Linked DNA regions of Homo sapiens. The protein of the gene in region 1 binds, or shares a complex with, the protein of each later gene. Each region holds a gene or a part of one and is shown on either strand. Other genes may lie near its edges. The genes, in order: USP39 and PRPF3.

Evidence for each region.
Region 2: USP39 (region 1) and PRPF3 share a complex: the UniProt entries of both Homo sapiens proteins name them as parts of the U4/U6-U5 tri-snRNP complex.

What each region holds. Positions count from the first base shown.
Region 1 is NC_000002.12:85,622,577-85,626,396, forward strand, and holds part of USP39 (ubiquitin carboxyl-terminal hydrolase 39), read left to right. Parts: intron 1-1,049; coding exon of another isoform or gene 1,050-1,069; coding exon 1,070-1,206; intron 1,207-2,962; coding exon 2,963-3,115; intron 3,116-3,820.
Region 2 is NC_000001.11:150,331,281-150,335,100, forward strand, and holds part of PRPF3 (U4/U6 small nuclear ribonucleoprotein Prp3), read left to right. Parts: intron 1-1,403; coding exon 1,404-1,487; intron 1,488-1,698; coding exon 1,699-1,919; intron 1,920-3,654; coding exon 3,655-3,820. UniProt on the Homo sapiens protein: Plays a role in pre-mRNA splicing as component of the U4/U6-U5 tri-snRNP complex that is involved in spliceosome assembly, and as component of the precatalytic spliceosome (spliceosome B complex).

The DNA.
Region 1 (3,820 bases):
TTTTTGTGGAGACAAGGCCTTATTATGTTACCCAGGCTACAATTTTTTTTTTTTTTTTGGAATATTCTTTAGCTCAAAGGACTTTTTTTATTCCATTTTTTTCTGAAAATTTATCATTTCAACTCATTCACACCAAGCAGATGCCATGTACATAGTATAGTGGAGGATTCAAATGAGGTAAAAACAGCTGGGCACAGTGGTTTACACACCTAATCCTAGCATTTTGGGAGGCCGAGGAGGAGGATTGTTTAAAGTCAAGAGTTCAAGACCCACCTGGCTAACATAGCAAGACCCTGTCTCAAAAAAAGAGATAAAAACTGTATTCTTTGCTCTCGTAAGGAGCTTATAAGGAGTCAAGGTTGACATGTAAAACAACCAGTGAGTTCTGTTAGATCATAAAGATTACTGCTGGACTGTGGCACGGAGTAAAAATAAGTGCAATAGGAGTTGAATGTGCAAAAATCAATGTTAGCTGGAGTGTTTATGTTGAGTTCATGGAAGAGCTGAGGTGGGACTTGAATTGGCAGGACATAGAATTTGAATGGTTAAGGGAGAGAGATTCTAGAAAGGAGTAGCAACATGAAAAAAGTTACATAGATAAAGCATTGTCCTGAATATGGGCATTTGGAAATCCAGGACTGAGTGATGATGGACTGTCATAGGATATGTATGTATTTATGTTTATGTGTATTTATGCACACATATATGCATAGATATTTCTAGTTTCATGTATATAGGAAACTATGTATGAATATATAGTTATATGTATTATATATAGATATATATATAGGTTATATATATTTTACATATATATTAAAAAATAGTGAAATTTGTTTCCCTAATCAATGTCTTAGGCCATTTAGAGAATGAAGTAACTAATGTGCTAGTCTTTCTTGCTAATTTTTTTATGAGAGAACTTCATGTGGAGGATTCATTTTATGAATGGCATAATATTTGTTTTTTGCGGATATTAACATGTTCCGGTAGAAAATAATGAAAGGAAAAGCAAACCTGATCTGTGTGTTCTAGTATCTGCCCTTCTATTACAGCTTTTCACCCTTCCCTACAGGCCGGGGTTTGAAGTCTCACGCCTACATTCACAGTGTCCAGTTTAGCCACCATGTTTTCCTCAACCTCCACACCCTCAAGTTTTACTGCCTTCCAGACAACTATGAGATCATCGATTCCTCATTGGAGGATATCACGGTGTGTGTCTAAGAGGGTTGGTTTGGGGTCCATTCTTTAATGAGCCATCCCAGGGCTCCCAGGGGACTGCCCCACCTGAGGACAGGGAAGAATCTCAGTCCCTTTAGGCATCGAGAGGCTGCTTTCTCTTTTGGGAAGAACTGGGGAAACTGAGTAAGGTCAGAATTCATAATTGCAGCCTGTAGTCTGTAACTTAACTGTCATTTCTACTTGTAACATTGAGGGCTAGGACTGAAGAAATATGGGTGTATTCTGATGGGGTTTAAAGTGTTTTTGTGAAATTATTCTTCTACACTGTGAAGTAGGGATATGAATTGGTCCTGGTGTAGGACAGTATTTACCAAGCTGCACACCGGCTCCTGGCTGCTTTTAACATACGCCGTGGCCAGAGCATCCAGCCACAGATATCTTATCTGTGGGCTCTAGTTTGTGACCTGTGCCAAGAGACACTCATTGTACTGAGCATGGAAAGTCCTCTTGGGTTTGATTAGTGTTGGGCTTTTGATTATTATTTTCCTTTTCAGCACGTGGGGTGTATTCATGGTGCCATGTGCTCTGTTCTTGTTTTTGGTTTTTTTTTTGAGACAGGGTCTCACTTTGTCGCTCAGGCTGGAGTGCAGTGGTGCCATCACAGCTCACTGCAGCCTCGACCTCATGGGTTCAAGTGATACTTTTACTTCAGCTTCCCAAGTAGCTAGGACTGTAGGCGTTACCATCATGCCCAGATACATTTTTAAAATTTTTTGTAGAGATGGAGTCTCACTGCATTGCCTAAGTTGTTCATGCTCTGTTTATTTTTAAGGAAAACGTGGTATTTAGTCTTTGAAATACTGCTTTTTCTACTTGTAAAAGTTGTATAAGCCTATTATTAATAGTTGAGATTAAAATAGTTATGGACAGGCTTGGTGGGGAGGCCCACACCTGTAATCCCAGCACTTTGGGAGGCCGAGGCAGGTGGGTCATTTGAGGTCAGGAGTTTGAGACCAGCCTGACCAACATGATGAGACCCCGTTTCTACTAGAAATACAAAATTAGCCGGGCATGATGGCACATGCCTGTAATCCCAGCTACTTGGGAGGCTGAGGCAGGAGAGTTGCTTGAATCTGGGAGGGGGAGGTTGCAGTGAGCCAAGATCATGCCATGGCACTCTAGTCTAGGCAACAAGAGCAAAACTCCATCTAAAAAAAAAAAAAAAAGTTATGGTCAGTATTTATAGAGGGAAAAACTGGGCTAAATTCAGTGTTTCAAAGTGAGTTTGCGATGATCTCTGTCCAGTCTGTGACATAATGACTGTGGTAACTCTGTGCCTGGGAAGAGTCTGATCCTGCTCTTCCAGTACCAGGGACTCATGGAGATCCTCATTCCCACCCAGAGTGGAGGAAACTCTCCTGCTCCAAAGCTAGGTCCATGTGCTGCTCCCAGGAGGTTCTATCTGAGACTTAGACTGCCTTTAGGAACTTGAGTATTGTATGGTTTCTGGCAGTCAGTTTTCATGAGTTGACCAGACCTGAGGTCGGCGAAAAGACCTGGGATTCAGTGATTTTGGGATAGACACAGAGATCCCCTTGTAGATTAGCCATGGGAGAGGATCTACTCCGTGTTACTTCAATCTTTACACCTACTGGTTCGGACTATTTTTCTGTGTGTGGTGGGATGTTCATGGCCAAGTGTTTTTTGTTTTTGTAGAAATTACTGTTACAGACATTTCTTGTGAACTCAGCTCTTAAACAACTTAGCATTTTCTTTTGCTTTGCAGTATGTGTTGAAGCCCACTTTCACAAAGCAGCAAATTGCAAACTTGGACAAGCAAGCCAAATTGTCCCGGGCATATGATGGTACCACTTACCTGCCGGGTATTGTGGGACTGAATAACATAAAGGCCAATGATTATGCCAACGCTGTCCTTCAGGTAAGATCAAGACGGGAACATTGAGGAAGAGAAGGACACCCAGAAGGCTGAGCACAGTGGCTCACCCCTGTAATCCCAGCACTTTGGGAGGCCAAGGCAGGCGGATTGCCTGAGGTCAAGAGTTTGAGCCAGCCTGGCCAACATGGAGAAACCCTGTCTCTACTAAAAATACAAAAATTAGCTAGATATGGTGGTGGAAGCCTGTAGTCCCAGCTATTTGGCAGGCTGAGGTGGGAGAATCGCTTGAATCCGGGAGGCAGAGGTTATAGTGACCCGAGATCGCGCCACTGCACTCCAGCCTGGGGAACAGTGAGACTCTGTTTCAAGAAAAAAAAAAGAGAGGGACAGGAAATAGTATGTGTACTGGCCAAGAAATTACTGCCTTCGGCCAGGCGCAGTGGCTCATACCTGTAATCCCAGCACTTTGGGAGGCCAAGGCGGGAGGATCACCTGAGGTCAGGAGTTCGAGACTAGCTTGGCCAACATGGAGAAACCCCATCTCTACTAAAAATACAAAATTAGCCGGGCTTGGTGGTGCATGCCTGTAATCTCAGCTATTCGGGAGGCTGAGGCAGGAGAATCACTTGAACCCAGGAGGCGGAGGTTGCAGTGAGCTGAGATCACGTCACTGCACTCCAGCCTGGGCAAGAAGAGCGAAACTCCTCCGTCTCAAAAAAAGAAATTACTGCCTTCTTGTAGAGTATA
Region 2 (3,820 bases), on another chromosome or scaffold:
CCTGCCTCAGCCTCCCAAAGTATTGGGATTACAGGCGTGAGCCACCACGCCCAGCCCTGTAATTTTTAATTTTTTTATTTTCTTTCTTTCTTTACTTATTTAGAGATGGAGTCTCCCCCTGTTGTCCAGGCTGGAGTGCAGTGGCATGATCTTGGCTCACTGTAACCTCCACCTTCTGGATTCAAGCGCTTCTCCTGCCTCAGCCTCCTGAGTAGCTGGCATTACAGGCGCCCACCACCACACCCGGCTAATTTTTGTATTTTTACTAGAGACGGTGTTTCACCATGTTAGCCAGGCTGGTCTTCAGCTCCTGACCTCAAGTGATTCGCCCACCTCAGCCTCTCAAAGTGCTGGGATTACAGGCGTGAGCCACCATGCCTGACCCTTCCGTAATTTTTGAATTTTGAATATATCACCTATTCAAGAAAAAATGTTAAAGACAAATGTTTAAAAATATCTTGAAGCAGTTTAAGAACAGGTCTGTTTTGCAAAATGTAAGAGGAGTTGTTTGGCCATACCCTCAAAGCTTATCATTCTGAACTTCTTTAGGACAGAAGGGGTTTATAGAGACTAGGGAGCAGGTCTTTGCACCATCGTCTCTTGTTTCCCAAACTAGTAGTTCAAGTACTAATATCATGATTTTTTAAAAAAAATTAAGTATAGGCTGGGTGCGGTGGCTCACACCTGTAATCCCAGCACTTTGAGAGGCCGAGGTGGGCGGATCACGAGGTCAGGAGATCGAGACCATCCTGGCTAACAGGGTGAAACCCCATCTCTACTAAAAATACAAAAAATTAGCCGGGCGTGGTGGTGGGCGCCTATAGTCCCAGCTACTCGGGATGCTGAGGCAGGAGAATGGCATGAACCCGGGAGGCAGAGCTTGCAGTGAGCCAAGATCGCACCACTGCACTCCAGCCTGAGTGACAGAGCGAGACTCCATCTCAAAAAAAAAAAAGAAAATTAAGTATAATATTTTGTGTAGGTTCTGTTAGGTTTGCATGCATTATTTAAGTGGTTAACACTAGACCTGTAAGGTAGGTACTGTTTTCTTCCCCCTTCTAGACACTTAGGAGGTTTAGAGACTAAGTTCCTTATCCAAGATAACAAAGGCATTAAGTGGCAGAGTTAAGATTCAAACTCAGGTTTCTCTGACTCCAGAGTCTCAATCATCACACTATATTACTACCTAATATGCTAATCTTGCTTTAGGAACATGGGTTGAAAAATTCCAGTGCTCACTTATCTTGACTAAATTTTTTGCACTGTGGTGCAGGCAGAATGTGGTATAGTCATTCAAAACATTTTAAGTGTCTAGACCTGAGAGCCTTGTGGGTTTAAAAACCTGAATGGGAGAAGTAAGAAGGAGAAATTAACAGTTTTTCAATTTTTTTCCTGGAGAGCAGATCAAACAGATGATGGAGGCAGCAACACGACAAATCGAGGAGAGGAAAAAACAGCTGAGCTTCATTAGCCCCCCTACACCTCAGGTATTGTGTCTAGATTACTCTGAACAGAATAATCTTTGGCACAGAATTTCTTGCCATCCACTCAAAATGAGAGACTAGAAGAGGTGACTACATGTTTCACTTCATAATCATCTGCTACAGTCTACCATGATGTGTGTGTATATCTGTGTGTATGTATGTGTGTTTGTCTGCCTGTCTTAATTCCTCTGATTTCTTTTTCTCTATCTCACAGCCAAAGACTCCTTCTTCCTCCCAACCAGAACGACTTCCTATTGGCAACACTATTCAGCCCTCCCAGGCTGCCACTTTCATGAATGATGCCATTGAGAAGGCAAGGAAAGCAGCTGAACTGCAAGCTCGAATCCAAGCCCAGCTGGCACTGAAGCCAGGACTCATCGGCAATGCCAACATGGTGGGCCTGGCTAATCTCCATGCCATGGGCATTGCTCCCCCGTGAGTGTCTATTTCATGGAATACCTTTTCATTTCTGAAGTTTGAGAAGCAATAAATACCTTTGAATGTTACTGATCTGGCTGGGCGCAGTGCCTCAGGCCTGTAATCGTAGCACTTTGGGAGGCTGAGGTAGGTGGATCACCTGAGGTCAGGAGTCAGGAGTTCGAGACCAGCCTGGCCAATATGGTGAAAACCCATCTCTACTAAAAATACAAAAATTAGCCAGGCGTGGTGGTGCATGCCTGTAATCCCAGCTACTCGGGAGGCTGAGGCAGGAGAATCGCTTGAACACAGGAGGCAGAGGTTGCAGTGAGCTGAGATCGTGCCACTGCGTGGGTGACAGAGGGAGACTCCGGCTCAAAGAAAACAACAAACAAAATATTACTGATCCTCTTTTTCCACAGAACCTAGATCATTTCTCACAGTTTCATATTTCTTAGGTGTGATTGATTAACCAGTTGAATTTTTTCTCGTCTTCCCTGTTGGAGGGTTTATTATCTTCTTATGATTTATATAACTGAGATTAAGGTTATTCATCTAATGTTGGAGCTAGGAGTATAGCCAGGTTTCCTTCCTGGTTTCAAACTCAGATTTATCCATTAAACCACATTGTGTGAGACTAGATCTGAGGTTCCTCTGCAACTGGTCAAAGATGTTACATTTTTTTTAGCATCTACAGTTGGTCTGGCATCCCATGAGTGACATAAGAATTCAGGGATAAGGAAAGATAGGATTATAAATTCATATAATTTATAAACTCATTTCATTTGGTTGTCCTGTATACTGAAATATCCACTTTGATATTTTTAATCAAGATACTATTGGCAGGGCGCGGTGGCTCACACCTGTAATCCCAGCACTTTGGGAGGCCGAGACTGGCAGATTGCTTGAGCTCAGGAGTTCAAGACCAGCCTAGGCAACATGGCAAAACCCCATCTCTCTAAAATATACAAAAATTAGCCAGGCATGGTAGAGCATGCGTGTAGTTCCAGCTACTTAGGAGGCTGAGGTGGGAGAATTTCTTTGGGCCTGGGAGGTTGAGGTTGCAATGAGCTGTGATTGTGCCACTGTACTTTAGCCTGGGCAGCAGAGTGAGACCATGTCTCAAAAAAAAAGATGGTATTGCTCACTGATGAGATTGTTCCCTAGAATTATTTTATTGTCCTTTTTGTTGTTGTTGTTGTTGAGAGGGAGTCTCACTCTGTCACCCAGGCTGGAGTGCAGTGATCTCGGCTCCCTGCAACCTCTGCCTCCCAGGTTCAGTAGCTGGGACTACAAGTGCCCGTCTAAATTTTGTATTTTTTGTAGAGATGGGGTTTCACTGTGTTGCCAAGGCTGGTCTTGAACTCCTGGGCTCAAGCCATCCACCCGCCTCAGCCTCCCAAAGTGCTGGGATTACAGTGTGAGCCACCACACCCGTCCATCCAAATAACTCTTATAGAGAAGGCACTGCAGCCTCAACTTCCTGGGCTCAAGTGATCCTCCTCAACCTCCTGAGTAGGTGGGACCACAGGTATATGCCACCGCACCCAGCTAATTTTAAATTTTTTGTTGAGATGCAGTCTCCTTGTGTTGGCCAGACTGGTCTTTAACTCCTGGGCTCAAGTGATCCCTCTGCCTTGGCCTCCCAAAATGCTGTGGTTCCAGGCTTGAGCCACCACGCCTGGCTTTATTTTGTTTTTTGCTTGCCTTAATGTTCCATACAGGATTTATTTCTTTGCGGGCTATTTTTCAGGAAGGTGGAGTTAAAAGACCAAACGAAACCTACACCACTGATCCTGGATGAGCAAGGGCGCACTGTAGATGCAACAGGCAAGGAGATTGAGCTGACACACCGCATGCCTACTCTGAAAGCCAATATTCGTGCTGTGAAGAGGGAACAATTCAAGCAACAACTAAAG